Regions from separate parts of the Homo sapiens genome. Here region 1 is linked to region 2. A link means that fine-mapping ties the variant in region 2 to the expression of a gene that starts in the linked region. Tissue or cell type: whole blood. Region 2 holds a variant in brackets; the other region holds the start of a gene. All regions are shown on one strand. Distances are between the middles of the regions.

Region 1 (8,089 bases), 53 kb after region 2:
GACCCCTGGGTCTGAAGGAGGAGAGGCTGGGGGCCTGGGCTCCTGGGTCTGAGGGCGGAGGTCCTGGGGCCTGCATTCCTGGGGCGGAGGAGGCGGGCCGGGCCTCAGGGCCCTCACCTTCCCAGCTGATGACCAGCACCTCGCTGCGCTGCGACAGCACGTAGGGCGCGGAGGGCGTGTGATAGTAGCAGCTGTAGGTGCCGGGGGCGCGGGCGCCCAGCAGCGTGAAGTCGGCCCAGGGCTGCGCGGAGTGGCGGTACTGCAGCGGGGCCGCCACGCCCTCGCGGTACAGCACGAAGCTCATGTTCCGCAGGCGGCCCGCGCAGCGCAGGCTCACGTTGGCGCCAGGACCCACCACCGGCCCGGGCAGCGCCACCAGCGACGGCCGCGGCAGCTCCTCTGCAGAGACGGGGTGAGAGTCCGGGGCCGCGTGAGCGTCTTCCGCTCGCTCGCTCGCTCTGTTTCTCCTTCTCCTCTGTCTCTCGCTTTCTCTGTGCCTCTCTCTCTCTTTCTGCCTCTCTTTCTCTCTGCCTGTCTCTCTCTCTGTCTGCCTCTCTCTCTGCCTCCCTCTCTCTCTGCCTCCCTCTCTCTGCCTCCCTCTCTCTCTGCCTCCCTCTCTCTCTGCCTCCCTCTCTCTCTGCCTCCCTCTCTCTCTGCCTCCCTCTCTCTCTGCCTCCCTCTCTCTCTGCCTGCCTCTCTCTCTGCCTGCCTCTCTCTCTGCCTCCCTCTCTCTGCCTCCCTCTCTCTCTGCCTCCCTCTCTCTCTGCCTCCCTCTCTCTCTGCCTCCCTCTCTCTCTGCCTCCCTCTCTCTCTGCCTGCCTCTCTCTCTGCCTCCCTCTCTCTCTGCCTCCCTCTCTCTCTGCCTCCCTCTCTCTCTGCCTCCCTTTCTCCTTCTGCCTCTTTCTCTCTCTCTCCCCCCGCACTGTACCTCTCTCTCTCTCTGCTCCCCTGTCTCTCTCTCTCCCCCTAGTGTCTCTGTATCTGTCTTTTCTTGTGTCTGTGAATCTGTTTGCCCGCCTCGCTCTGTCTCTCTTTCCCTATATCTCTCTGTCCCTCCCCCAACTCCCTTGTTCCACCCACTTCTCCTCCCCGACCCCAGGACCTCACCTGTCACCAGCAGCTCCAGGACATCGCTGGGCTGGGACCAGACACCCGGCCCCCAGTCTGGCCTTCGGTAGCAGCAGCGGTAACTTCCCCCTTGGGCTGGAGTCACCTCCTCCAGAAAGAATTCTGCCAGCTCGGAGGACACATCCCGGAAGAGAAGGGGAGCGATCTCTCCAGGCTTGAAAAGTCCAAATCTCCAAGCGGGTTGGGGTGCCCGGCATCTCAAGGTCACGTTGACCCCAGGGGTCACAACTGTAGCCGGCTGAGCTCCCAGCCATGGCTTAGGGTGGTATGAAGCTGGGGGGACTGAATAAACGGGGCTGCCTGGGTCCTCGGGCCTCCTGGGAGCCCCAGAAGATGAAAGGGAAGTTGGGGAAGGAGGAAAATCACCTTGGACAATTACTGCCCCTTTCTTAGCCTCAGTTTCCTGTTTGTAAAATCAGGGAGAGACTGGACTACAATCAAGCCTTGTTAAAACCAGGTGCAAATCAGAGGGGCAGGACAGAAACTTCTGAGCTTTACTCCACAGTTTGTAAACACAGTTTCAAAAGGTCAGGTCCCAGAACTCTGTAATTTTATTATTATTATTATTTTTAAGTAATGAGATGGGAGGGGGCGGTCTCCCTATGTTGAGCAGGTTGGTCTTAAACTACTGGCCTCAAGCAATCCTCCCACCTCGGCCTCCCAAAGTGCTAAGTTTACAAGCTTGTGCCACCACACCCAGACTTTTTTTTTTTTTTTTTTTTTTTTTTTTGAGGCAGGGTCTTGCTCTGTTGCTCAGGCAGGAGTGCAGTGGCATGTTCTCAACTCACTGCAGCCTCAATCTCTTGGGCTCAAACAGTCCTCCACCTCAGCCTCCTGAGTACCTGGGACCACAGGCACATGCCACTACACCAGGCTAATTTTTTTTTTTTTAATTTTTAGTAGAGACGAGCATTCGCTATATTGCCCAGGCTACTCTTGAACTCTTGGGCTCAAGCAATCCTCCCACCTCGGCCTCCCAAAGTGCTGGGATTACAGGTGTGAGCCACCACGCCCAGCCAGAACTCTAATTTTAAATAGCTTTCCAGAATATTTGCAATATAGTATTTCAAGAGTTGCCAAAACTTGCTATTTGGAAAAGAAAAATGTTGGATCCCTACCTCATACCATTTCCCAAAACAACTTCCAGATTAATTAAAGACCCTGTGTTTCTTTTTTTTTAAACTATAAAAGTATTCAAAAAACTATAGGAAAATATATTTGTCTTGGGGTAAGGAAGGCTTCTTAAAATATAAAATAAAAAGTTGTATGGAAGATTAATTAATTTGACCACTTCAAATTTCTTAAGTTGTGTATGCTAAAAGACAAAACTAGAGGACAAATGATAGTACTGGCAGATATCACTTATTCACAAATCACACAAATTAAGAGTACAGGAAGGCTGTTGGGTCCGGTGGCTCACAGCTGTAATCCCAGCACTTTGGGAGGCCAAGGTGGGTGCATCACCTGAGGTCAGGAGTTCAAGACCAGCCTGACCAACATGGTAAAATCCCATCTCTACTAAAAACAGAAAAATTAGCCAGGCGTGGTAGTGCTAGCTTGTAGTTCCAGCTGTTTGGGATGCTGAGTAGGAGAATTACTTGAACCCTAGAGTCGGAGGCTGCAGTTAGCTGAGATCATGCCACTGCACTCCAGCCTGGGCAACAGAGTGAGAACTCCATGGTGGCATGCACTTTGGGAGGCTGAGGCTGGAGGATTGTCTGAGCCCAGGAATTCAAAGCTGCAGTGAGCTATGATAGAGCCACCGTACTCCAGCCCGGGTGACACAATGAGACCCCATCTCTAAAAATGAATAAAAATAAGGGTCGGGTGAGGGGGCTCATGTTTGTAATCCCAACACTTTGGGAGGCTGAGGCAGAGGGATCACCTGAGGTCAGGAGTTCCAGACCAGCCTGACCAACATGGGGAAACCCTGTCTCTACTAAAAATACAAAAATTATCCGGGCATTGTGGTGTGTGCCTGTAGTCCCAGCTACTCAGGAGGCTGAGGCAGGAGAATCCCTTGAACCCAGGAGGTGGTTGCAGTGAGCCGAGATTGCACCACTGCACTCCGGCCTGGGCGACAGAGAGAAACTGGTCTCAAAATAAATAAATAAATAAATAAAATAAATAGGTAGAGATAGCTATAGCGACACTGAAATATCTCCAAAAGAGTTTTTTTTGTTTGTTTGTTTGTTTTTGAAGTGGAGTCTTGCACTGTCACCCAGGCTGGAGTGCAGTGGCGCGATCTCAGCTTACTGCAACCTCTGCCTCCTGGGTTCAAGCGATTCTCTTGCCTCAGCCTCCTGAGTAGCTGGGATTACAGGTGCGTCCCACCACACCCGGCTAATTTTTTTTTTTTTTTTTTTTTTTTAGTAGAGACGGGGTTTCACCACATTAGCCAGGATGATCTCGATCTGACCTTGTGATCCGCCCGCCTCTGCCTCCCAAAGTGCTGGGATTACAGACGTTGGCCATTGCGCCCAGCCCAAGATCCTATTTCTTAAGCCCTGTACTGTGCCAGGCTCAGGGTTTTGCACATGTGATTTGATGAGATCTCACAGCGGCCCATTTTACAGAGAAGGAAATGGAGTCTTAGCAAGCTGTGACTTGTTCTAGGTCATATGGTCACATATAAATGAATACGATGGTGAAACTGAGGTCCTAGCTTAGGCCTCTGCCTCAGAAGTTCCTGGTCTTCAGTACTCACCTATAATGGCCACTAAGGGGAATGAGAAAAGAAGGAAGGAATGGAGGGAGGGAGGAAAATAAGGATATCTGGGATGGGATTGGGCACCAAAATAAAATCTGAGTAATTGGAAAAGGGGTGTCAGCAACAAAAGGAGAGTGGATGGGGTGGCTACTCACCAGACGGAGTGATGTCTGTGTGACACAGAGGCCCTGTAGGAGGTTGAGGGACTAGTTTCTTTTTCCTTTTTTTTTTTTTGTCTGAGGCAGAGTCTCACTCTGTCGCCCAGGCTGGAGTGTAGTGGTGTGATCTCAGCTCACTGCAACCTCTGCCTCCCAGGTTCAAGTGATTCTCCTGCCTCAGCCTCCGTAGTAGCTGGGACTACAAGTGCCCGCCACCACACCAGGCTAATCTTTGTATTTTTAGTAGAGAGGGGTTTCGCCATGTTGGTCAGGCTGGTCTTGAACTCCTGTCCTCAGGTGATCCACCCGCCTCGGCCTCCCAAAGTGCTGGGCCTCGGCTCCCACAGGCATGAGCCGCTGCGCCCAACAGCGAGTTCTTTTCAAAACCCTTTGTGGCCAGCCCCATCTCATTGGTAACCCAGGAATCTGAGTTCCCAGCTCCTATCTCCTCTGGGAAATGAGAATCTTATCCCTCCCTCCTCCTGTCTCAGTAGGCAGAAATTTGGACATCCATTGCCCACCTACCGAAGAAGTCTGAACGCAGACCCCTCTGGCCTGGGCAACCAAGAGTTCAGGCCCTTGAACTCCACCTTTCCAGGGAACAATGATCGTAGAGTTTCTCCTCTCACGAGTTCAGGAATCTGGGTCCCCATTTCCCTCTTCTCTCAGGAGCTAAGAGCCCTGTTCCCAGCCCCCTTTTCCCAGGGAATCAGGAGTCCTGGCTTCCATCCCCCTCCCATATAAGAATCTGGGAGTCCTCCCTGTCTCCTGACCTCTTCCTGCCTCAAGAACCAGAGATACCTGTCCCCACCTCCTTCCTCTTTCGGGAATCTGTGTTCTCTTGCTTTAGGACCCAGGGGTCTGGGCCCCAGCCCTGTTCTTTATTTGAACCTAGAATCCCAAACCTGCTGCCTGGTCCCCCTGCAGGGTGTCTGGGTCTCCATTGCCTCTCTCTCTGCCCCCAACCCCAGCCAGGAACCCAGGGAGAAGAAAGGGGTGACTCACAGAGGGTCAGCAGCTGGAGGATCAGCACCAGGGCCATGGTGGGCAGATACCCGCTAGAGCTGGAGCCAGGGCTTGGTCGCACCCTCTCCCCTCCCAGGAAATGAGGCAACATCAGAAAACCAGACCCAGATCCTCATTTACGGAAGAGAGTATCGAGGTGGGGGCCTGTGGGTGACTGTGTCATAGCCCTATGGCACTGTGGAAAAATTAGCAGGGGGTTCAGTCATAACCTGTGGTGTTCATTTATTTAACTCTAGAAACAAATACTAGTCAGGAGGTGGAGGCAGGAGGATCGCTTGAGCCCAAGAGTTCAAGAGCAGCCTGGGCAACAGAGCGAGACCCTGTCTAAAAAATAAATAAATAAATTGTGCCACTGCACTCCAGCCTGGGTGATAGAGTGAGACCATGTCTTTAAATATAGATAGACAGATAGAAAGATATCTGTCTGTTTTAAAAATAAGAACCTATTATGTGCCAGACTCTTGCTGTCATTGATTGACAGATAGATAAAAATTTGCACCTATTATGTGCCAGGCCCTTGCTGTGATTGAAAGATAGATAGATGGATGGATGGATAGATAGATAGATAGATAGATAGATAGATAGATAAAAATTAGCACCTGTTAAGTGCCAGGCCCTTGCTGTGATTGATTGATGGATAGATAAAAATTAACACCAATTATGTGCCAGGCCCTTGCTGTGATTAATTGATCGATTGATAGATTGGTTGACAGAGAAAAATTAGCACCTATTATGTGCCAGGCTCTTGGTGTGATACTGTGTTAGATAGATAGATAGATAAAAATTAGCCCCTCTAGGCCGGGCGCGGTTGTTCACGCCTGTAATCCCAGCACTTTGGGAGGCCAAGGCGGGTGGATCACCTGAGGTCGGGAAGTTCGAGACCAGCCTGACCAACATGGAGAAACCCCCGTCTCTCCTAAAAAAGAAAAATTAGCCGGCTGTGGAGGCGCGCGCCTGTAATCCCAGCTATTCAGGAGGCTGAGGCAGGAGAATCGCTTGAACTCGGGAGTCGGAGGTTGCTGTGAGCCGAGATCGCGCCATTGCACTCCAGCCTGGGCGACAGAGCTAGACTCAATCTCAGAAGAAAAAAAAAAAAATTAGAACCTATTACGTGCCAGACCCTCGCTGTGCCATGTTGGCAGGCACAGAGGGAACTCAGACTCCGTTACTGCTCTCAAGCAGCAGCTACCAGTCCGACTGAAAGACCAAGACCAGGTCAGTTTCTTTTTTTTTGAGACGGAGTCTCGCTCTGTCGCCCAGGCTGGAGTGCAGTGGTGTGATCTCGGCTCACTGCAAGCTCCGCCTCCCGGGTTCACGCCATTCTCCTGCCTTAGCCTCCCCAGTAGCTGGGACTACGGGCGCCCACCACCACGCCCGGCTAATTTGTGTTGTATTTTTAAGTAGAGACAGGGTTTCACCATGTTAGCCAGGATGGTCTAGATCTCCTGACCTCGTGATCCGCCCGCCTCGGCCTCCCAAAGTGCTGGGATTACAGGCGTGAGCCACCGCGCCTGGCCCAGACCAGGTCAGTTTCTTAAGTGATCTGAGCTATAATGGCGGTAACAGAGCACTGTGAGAGCCCGCAGAAAGCTCCTAACCCATCTGGGATGAGACCTAGCGCTTCCAGGACGAGCCGATGTTGAGCTGAGACCTCGAAGGACAGGTTAGTCATTCACCTTCTCCCGGGCTCAGTTTCTTCGTCTGTAAAATGGGCTTTCATACATAAACTATAAAATGGGGACTATTTTGTTCCGCCTTAGGTGGGTCGCAGCAGGAGGACTAGTCACTCCGGAGCGACTTCTAGGCTGAGACTAAGGAGATTCCACGCAGGTCCGCAAAGTCAGGCTTGCGCTTGCTCCTGACACCACTTCCTTTACCTCCACGGCTCCATCTTTGTTCTGCGCGAGTGCGCACGCGCAGGCTCCGAAAGCGGGCCGTCGCACAGAGGGACCACAACTCCCAGAGTGCTCCGCGTCCTTGCTTTCGCCTCTACTTGTGCTCCAGGGCGCACGCGCAGCCCTGGGAGCGGGTTCTCGCGCATAGGGACCACAACTCCCAGGGTGCTCCGCGTCCTCGCCGCTGTCGCCGCCGCGGAGACAAAGATGGCTGCGAGTAAGTGCAGGTGCCGGTGGCGCACGGGGCTCGGGTAGTTCTGGGAACCTCTGGGCGGTCCTGGGACTGAGGTGCGGCAGGGCAGGGGTGGAAGCGATGGGGTCCGTGCTGGAGGGGAACGCAGAAGTCACGAGGGGGCTCCTCCAGGGCAGGGGTGGCACGAGAGGGTTAGAGGTCACCGGGGGCAGCTACTTGCAGGGGTGACGCTTCTTGCCACCCCTTCAGGAGTCGGCGCCTTCCTCAAGAATGCCTGGGACAAGGAGCCAGTGCTGGTCGTGTCCTTCGTCGTCGGGGGCCTCGGTGCGTGAGTGCTCCAGGCGCAAACTTGCATCGTCCACCCCCGTCCCCCTACATCCCTCCATCTTGTACCCCTAAAGCCCTATCGCCGCCCTCGGGTCCCCTCTAGTGTGTCTGCACCCCCACGGCATCCCCTTATCTATCCCCATACCCATTATAACCTCTCCACCATCGCCCCCCGCGTTCCTCTCCACCTACCCAATACGCTCTTAACCCCTCTAAATGAGACGTTCTCAACCCTGCTTATGCCTTAACACCTGAGCACCAAAAAAAAGTCCAGATCCTCCTCCTCCTTTTCATCTTTCCTCTCCCCCATTCTGAATTGAGTTGGCTTGGGTGGAGGTGGGACTGGGGAATCTGTGTCTTGTGAAAATCCCCGTATGATCCCAATGTGCCTTGCTGATTGAAAATCTCTGCCCTCTGCCCTGGAACTGCCCTACTCACACTTTAATTAGCACCGGAGTTCCTGCAGGGATGGGGGCGGGGGATTGTTAAAATGTAGCTTTTTTTTTTGCGATGGAGTCTCACTCTCACCCAGGCTGAAGTGCAGTGGCGCGATCCCGGCTCACTGCAACCTCGGCCTCCTGGGTTCAAGGGATTCTCCTGCCTCAGCCTCCCGAGTAGCTGGGATTACAGGCGCCCAGCTAATTTTTTGTTT
Region 2 (8,094 bases):
TTTTGAGATGGAGTCGTGTTCTGTCACCCAGGCTGGAGTGTGATCCTGGCTCACTGCAACCTCCACCTCCCTGGTTCAAACAATTCTCCTGACTCAGCCTCCTGAGTAGTTGGGATTACAGGCGTGAGCCACCACATCTGTCTGTGTAATCACTGTCTGAAATCCACTGATGGGGTGAGTAGAAAAGCTAAGAGAAGCCAGACAGATGGCCTGGCTTCCAAGCCTGGATCTCCCACCTTGGAGCTGGAACTTCCTTGGAGCTGGACATTTCGACCAATAGACTTTGAGTAAAGCAGATGACCCACTGTCATAGGGGTGGGCCTCATCCAATCAGTTGAAGACTTTAAGACTTTAAGAGAAAAGACTGAGGTCCCCCAAGGTGGAAGGAATTCTGCCTCCAGACTCAAGCTGCAATATCAAGTCTCCCCTGGATCCCCTGCCTGCCTGCCCTGCAGATTTCAGACTTGCCAGCTCCCCACAATCACGTGAACCAATCCATTAAAATCAATCTCTCTCTCCATATATGTATATACATGTATATGTTCTCTTTTTTTTTTTTGAGACAAAGTCTCACTCTTATCGTCCAGGCTGGAGTGCAATAGTGCAATCTTGGCTCACTGCAAGCTCCGCCTCCCGGGTTCAAGCAATTCTCCTGCCTTAGCCTCCTGAGTAGCTGGGATTACAGGTGCCCACCATCACGCCCGGCTAATTTTTGTATTTTTAGTAGAGACGGGGTTTCGCCATGTTGGCCACGCTGGTCTTGAACTACTGACCTCAGGCAATCTGCCTGCCTCGGCCTCCCAAAGTGCTGGGATTACAGGCGTGAGCCACCACACCCAGCTTATATCTATATGTTCTATTGGTTCTGTTTTTCTGGAAAACCCTGGCTAACACAGACATGATCTCAGCTCTTAACTTCAAACATATTTCCTTTTTCTTTTTTTAAAGGAGAGAGAGAGATGTGAAAGGACGGGATGTGAAGATTATGGGGAGAGGGTGAGGGCAATGGAGGGGAGAGGAGGGGAGAGGAGGGAGGTCACAGATGGGAGCTCAGGATGCCAATCCCAGATGTGCCAATGGGTTCCCATTGTTGCCCAGGCTAGAGTGCAGTGGTGTGATCATACTCGAATTCCTGGGCTCAAGTGGTCCTCCTCACTCGGCCTCCAGGGTAGCTGGGAGTACAGACCACCACGCCCAGCCAACTTCAAACACACTTCAATGAGCTCGTTGATGCCAGGTAATGAACAGCAGTGACACGGGCATGGAAGGCGTTTAGAGTGGGGAGGGGTGGGGCTCTCTGAAGGAGACATGATTCCCCAAGACACAGAACAAGGGATCAGCTGGGAGAATTCAGGGAGGATTCCTAATAAGAACAGGGTTAGAGCAGGGTAGAAAAGAATGACCAGTGGCCGGGCACGGTGGCTCACGCCTGTAATCCTGGCACTTTGGGAGAGTGAAGTAGGTGGATCACTTGAGGTCTGGAGTTCGAGACCAGCCTGGCCAACATGGTGAAACCCTGTCTCTACTGAAAATATAAAAAATAAGCTGGGCATGGTGGCGCACGCCTGTAGTCCCAGCTACTCAGGAGGCTGAGAGAAGAGAATTGCTTGAACCTGGGAGGCGGAGGTTGCAGTGAGCCGAGATCGCATCACTGCATCATACACTCAACTGACCAAGACTCCAACTCAAAAAAGCATCCCTCTCAGGAGATAAAATTTCTACCAATTAAAAAACAAAAACAAAACAAAACAAAAAAAACTAGTTCTTGAGCAATATTGCCATGCAAGTCTACATCATAGCGTTTTAAAGTCTTAACAACAACCCTGCAAGGTAGTACAATTATTTCCCTCCCACTGGTGAAGGGCATGCATTCCCGTGTGACTCCTGGGATTACAGCAAGGGTTGTGTCCAAAGCTCACAGCGTTGAGGAAGAGAGAGCAACCTGTTACTAAAGCTAGGCGACAGAGTCCATGCAGTTCCCCCCCGTTTTTTGTTTTTCTTGGCACTTTAGATTCAAGAAACACAAGTCGTGAGACTTTAAGGAGTAAGTAGCAGAAACGTGATTAAGGAAAAAAGTTGAGCAACTATAGAAGTGAGGCCCCAGAAAGGGGCTTCACCAAGACCCCCGCTATCTTTGTTAGTGTGCTTTGAGTCTGAGAATTTTTCCTAGGTGTGCAATGATCTGTGGTCACATTACAGAGCCAAGTCTGAGATGCTTCACACGCCTGGTCCTCTGCACCAACAGAGGGTCTCCCATCCAGACGCTTCCCCTACTTGGTTCGCTATGTTTGCATTGGCATTTCTACATATCTATATATAGAGAATTACCTATCTAATTTATCTATCTCGCTAATCTATCTACCATCTGTCTAGGTATCTATTATCTATCTACCTATCTATCTTTATCTGTCTCTGTACCTACTTACCTATCATCTATCCAATCTATCCGTCCTATCTAATTATGATTTATCTATCTACCTACTTGCCTATCACCTATCCAATCTATCTATCCTATCATATGTAATTAACTATCTGTCTGTCTAATTTTTCTATCTTGTTAATCTATCACTTATCTAGGCATCTATGTATCTATCTTTATCTGTCTATCCACCTGCTTACCTGCTGTCTGTCTAATCTATCCATCCTATCATATCTAATTATCACTTATCTATCTACCGACTTACCTATCATCTAGTTACCAAATCTATCATCTATCTAATGTATCTATCAATCATAACCAGTTATCTATCATCTATCATCTATCATCTGTATGTATCTGTCTATTCACCTACTATTATCTATTTAATCTATTCTATCTAGTTATCTATCTATCTATCCACCTACTTATCTAATTTTTCTATCTTGCAACTCTATCACCTATCTAGGTATCTATGTATCTATCTGTGTATCTGTATATCTATCTATCTATCTAGCTAGCTTTATCTAGCTACCTAGTTACCTATCATCTATCTATCTAATCTATCATCTATCTAATGTATCTATCAATCATATCTAATTATCTGTCTATCTAATCATCTATCTTATCTATTATATCTAGTTATCTATCATCTAGCTAGCTAGCTAATCTATCTGTATCTATCTACCTACTTACCTATCGTCTATTTATCTATCTAATCTATCATATCTAGTTATCTATCTACTTACTTATCTAACCTGTTGTATCTAGTTATCTATCTACCTACTTACCTATCATCTGTCTATCTATCTAATCTGTCCATCGTATCTAGCTACTTATCTACCTATCATCTATGTATCTATCTAATCTATCATATCTAGTTATCTATTTATCTGCCTACTTGCCTATTATCTATCACATCTAATTATCTATCTATCCCCCTCCCTGAAATAAGGTTCTTTCTGAGCTGATCATCAGGGAGCAGCAAAAGGAGTGGGGAGTTTGAAACAAGACATATTTGAGTTCTAGTACTGGGTCTCCTACCTCCTGACTTTGTAAATGTTCCCTTCCCTTTCTGGAATACGTTATTTTTTGGTTAAATATAAGGAGGGGGCAGAGAGCTAATAATATCTAACTTGAAGAGTTAGGTAATGATGAAAAATCCTGGCTTTAAAGCGCTCAGTCTAGAAACTGACTCATTGTGTCGGATAATGGGATTGTAGGTATAATGATGATTTTTTTTCACCCAATATTCCACCTACACCCATCTCTCTCTGTAATAGATTCTGTCAATGTTCCTCAACCCATGTTCCCCAGATCCCTTTCCCATTTTTATGCATTCTAGATCGTGGCTTCTTTCCCTTTCCAAAGTGAACATTTGTATCTCTTCTTTGGGGGACTGCCTGGGAGAACTCCAAATGCCTTGGAATTTACATGCCCGGGACAAACTGCCACTGACGGCTGTGGGGACCCCAGCTCCCTAGCCTCTGGTCTTCGACCTTCTCTGTCTCCACTGCTTTCTGCAGGATGGAGCCAAAGATACCATCTGAGGGACACAGATATCCCACACTTGTTTAATCTATTTTCCTCCCAGCCCTTCTTCCCCACTCCCTAAAATGTAATTTTCAAGCCAGGCGTGGTGGCTCACACCTGTAATCCCAGCACTTTGGGAGGTCGAGGCAGGCAGAGCACCTGAGGTCAGGAGTTCGAGACCAGCCTGACCAACATGGAGAAACCCCGTCTCTACTAAAAATAGAATATTAGCTGGGTGTGGTGGTGCATGCCTGTAATCCCAGCTATTTGGGAGGCTGAGGCAGGAGAATCTCTTGAACCTGGTAGGCGGAGGTTGCAGTGAGCCAAGATCACGCCATTGCACTCCAGCCTGGGCAACAAGAGCGAAACTCTGTCTCAAAACTAAATAAATAATAAATAAAATAAAACGTCACTTTCACACTAATGCTGTCTAAGAGCCTGCTTCTGGTGGAGCTGAATCAGAGAACCCCTCAAAAGCAACAATTTTTTTTTTTTTGAGACAGTCTCACTCTGTCTCCCAGGCTGGAGTGCAGTGGTACAATCTCGGCTTTGGAACCTCCCCCTCTGGGGTTCAAGCAATTCTCCTGCCTCAGCCTCCCAAGGAGCTGGGATTACAAGCACCCGCCACCTCACCCCGCTAATTTTTTATATTTCTAGTAGAGATGAGGTTTCACCATGTTGGTTAGGCTGGTCTCAAACTCCAGAGCTCAAGTGTTCTGCCCACTTTGGCCTCCCAAAGTGCTGGGATTACATAAGCCACCATGCCTGGCCATAAGCAACAATTCTATCAGTGCATCTCCAAGGACTTATGAAAACAGGGCAGGAACAGCTGCTCCTGGACTCTCAGTTTCCCCAGATGGAAGCAGAGAAACAGCAGCCTTGCCTTGTCCTTTCTGTTCTCCCCTTTTCCAGCCTACGGTATCTTTCACACAGCAATTCACTAGAAATGAGAAGTACATTATTGCAAAATTCTCATCTTCATATGAC[C/G]CCATAATCAGCTGAACTGGGTTCACCCTGAGATGTCCACAGATCCTGGCCAAATGTTGCATCAGTATTTGCAAATTGCCAGAATAAATCATAACTTGCTACGCTACTAAAGTCAGCGTGAGCAACAAGATACAGCCTGACACGGGGCATAAATGGAGGCACAGGCACCAGAAAGAAAGTCAAGTCTTGTGTGATAAAATTCATCTTCATTCTCTACATTGCGATTGAACATAGAGTCGTTTTCTAGTGTGTTTTAGGCATATAAATACAGGCTGGGGACATCATACCTGTGCTTACAGATATTTTACTTTTATTTTATTTATTTACTGAAACAGGGTCTCGCTCTGTCACCCAGGCTGGAGTGCTGTGGCGCAATCACAGTTCACTGAAGCCTCAACCTCCTGGGCGCAAACGATCTTTCTGCCTGAGCCTCCCAAGTAGCTGGGACTACAGGTGCACACCACCACGCCTGGCTAATTTTTGTATTTTTTGTAGAGATGGGATCTTACCAAGTTGTCCAGGCTGGTCTTGAACCCCTGGGCTCAAGTGATCCTCCTGCCTCATCTTCCCAAAGTCCTGGTATTACAGACGTGAGCCACTGCGCCCGGCAAAGATATTTTATTCTGTTTAGAATTGTGATGATACAAATTTGAACTCAAAAAGTACATTTTAAGAAATTATATAATACCCACTGGGATGGCTATAATTTAAAAAAAGAAAAGTAAGTGTTGACAAGGATGTGGAGATATTGGAACCCACATATATTACTGGAAGGAATATAACATGATACAGCCACAATGGAAAATGATTTGGCAGTTCCTCAAAAAGTTGAACATAATAGTCACCATATGTCCTAGCAAATCCACTTCTAGGTACATACTCAAGATAATTTACAGCGCGGAGACAAACAGATACTCCTACCACAGTGTTCCAGCACCATTACTCGCTTTAGCCAAGAGGTGCAGACAACACAAATGTCCATCAAAAGAAGAACGGGGCCAGGCACAGTAGCTCAAGTCTGTAATCCCAGCACTTTGGGAAGCTGAGGCGTGTGGATCACCTGAGGTCAGGAGTTCGAGACCAGCCTAGCCAACATGGTGAAACCCCCTCTCTACTAAAAATACACAAATTAGCTAGGCATGGTGACGGGCGCCTGTAGGTCCAGCTACTCAGGAGGTTAAGGCAAAAGAATCACTTAAACCTGGGAGGCGGAGGTTGCAGTGAGCTGAGATTGTGCCACTGCACTCCAGCCTGGGCGACAGAGCAAGACTCCGTCTCAAAAAAACAAAAACAAAAACAAAAAAAAGAATGGATAAGCAAAATGTGGTCTATCCATACAATACGATGCTTTTCACCATGACAAGAAATGAAACATTGATGCATGCTACAGTACAGACAAACTTTGAAAACATTATGCTAAAGAGAAAGGAGCTAGTCACAAAGGATCACATAGTGTATGAATCCACTTACACAAAATGTCCAGAATAGACAAAATCATAGACACAGAGAAGCATATGAATGGTTGGAAGGGCCTGGTGGGAAAGTGGGAAATGAGGAGTGACTGCTTAATGGGTACAAGATTTTCTTTTAGGGTGATGAGAATGTTCTGGAATTATGTAGTGGTGATGGTTATACTACCTCATGAAGATACAAAATGCCAGTGAATTGGACACTTTACAAGGGTGAATTTTTGGACTGTGAATTATATATCAATAAAAAAAGAAAGAAAATAAATGATACAAGAGCTCAAAATAGAAAAGCTTCTCTTCCTCCTCCCCCTCACACCTCACTAGATCTCCCACCTCGTTTCTGATACTTCTGTGTTCCTCTCTCCCATTAGATTTCATATCTTTCTCAGAAAACGTTCCTGACGTGAATTGTGTTCGTAGTGCTAGGGTAGCAGACATTTCCCAAGCCTACTATCATGGAATAAAAACGTTTCAAATAGTTATCTTGCAAGAACACTTTGGAGGATACCTTTTTGAAAACCGATTATACCAGCACAGACTGCTAGCAACAACCTTCAGCAACTTTGGCTCTTTGGAGTAGGTTGCAGGAAGATTATGACTTGCTGAAAGGAAGGATGATTAAGCATCTAGATGCCAATTTATATTCTGCATTTGGCCCTTAAAGTCTGGATGAGTTCCTGTTTCAGCCGAATGCTGCCAAAAGCTCTAACTTTTTAATTTTTTTTTTTTTTTTTTTTTTTTGGAGACAGAGTCTCACTCTGTTGCCCAGGCTGGAGGGCAGTGGTGTAATCTCGGCTCACTGCAACCTCTGCCTCCCAGGTTCAAGCAATTCTCCTGCCTCAGTCACTTGAGTAGCTGGGAATACAGGCGCCCACCACAATGCCCAGCAAATTTTTGTATTTTTAGTAGAGACAGGGTTTCACCATGTTGCCCAGGCTGGTTTCGAACTCCTGACCTCAGGTGATCCGCCCACCTCGGCCTCCCAAAGTGCTGGGATTACAGATGTGAGCCACCTCGCCTGGCCCAAAAGCTCTAATTTTTATGAGAAACTCTGAGGACAGAATCTTAGTCAATTGTTAATGAATAAGCAACATTAGAAAAAAAATTCAATATTCACCTATTTTTGAGAATTTTAGAGTTATAACAAACTCTTGATTATATATATTCCTGAAGTACCTACTCTGCGTAGGTCCTGGTCCTACTCCCCAAATGGGTCACTGAAAAATTCACCCCCATTATTCCCCAAATCCCACCCTAGTTTTTCATCATGTCATATGGCAAACAACGCACTCTGTGCTGTTTTACACACCAGCTTCTTCAGAACCCGGAAGCACTTTAGAGGTTATCTCCCCTCATCCTCCACCCCCCAAAACACAGCAGTTTCCCCAATAACATTGAGAAAATGGGCTTTAAAGTTCTTCTAGGCCGGGTGCGGTGGCTCATGCCTGTAATCCCAACACTTTGAGAGGCCGAGGCGGGGGAATTGCTTGAGGTCAGGAGTTTGATACCAGCCTGGCCAACATGGTGAAACCCCATCTCTACTAAAAACAAAAAACAAAAAACAAAACTGAGCTGGATATGGTGGTGGGTGCCTGTAATCCCAGCTATTCGGGAGGCCGAGGCAGGAGAATTGCTTGAACCCAGAACCCAGGAAGTGGAGGTTGCAGTGAGCTGAGATTGTGCCACTTC

The links. PIP is the estimated chance that this variant, and not a neighbour inherited with it, causes the effect.
Region 1: OSCAR starts here. The variant in region 2 is fine-mapped to the expression of OSCAR in whole blood (TOPMed, PIP above 0.99).

Annotation. Positions count from the first base shown.
Region 1 is chr19:54,095,755-54,103,843 of GRCh38, forward strand. It overlaps OSCAR (osteoclast associated Ig-like receptor), which reads right to left and starts at 5,049. Exons shown (of 5, transcript NM_133169.6): 1 at 5,002-5,049; 2 at 3,994-4,026; 3 at 1,108-1,410; 4 at 118-399. The coding sequence starts at 5,038. NDUFA3 (NADH:ubiquinone oxidoreductase subunit A3) reads left to right here and starts at 7,101. Exons shown (of 4, transcript NM_004542.4): 1 at 7,101-7,134; 2 at 7,360-7,434. The coding sequence starts at 7,125. RefSeq lists an enhancer at 6,890-7,866.
Region 2 is chr19:54,042,870-54,050,963 of GRCh38, forward strand. The region is part of intron 4 of VSTM1 (V-set and transmembrane domain containing 1); the gene reads right to left. Among named protein-coding and RNA genes, the nearest start is that of VSTM1, 17 kb to the right of the region's middle. The variant C/G (reference allele first, on the strand shown) is at 4,937.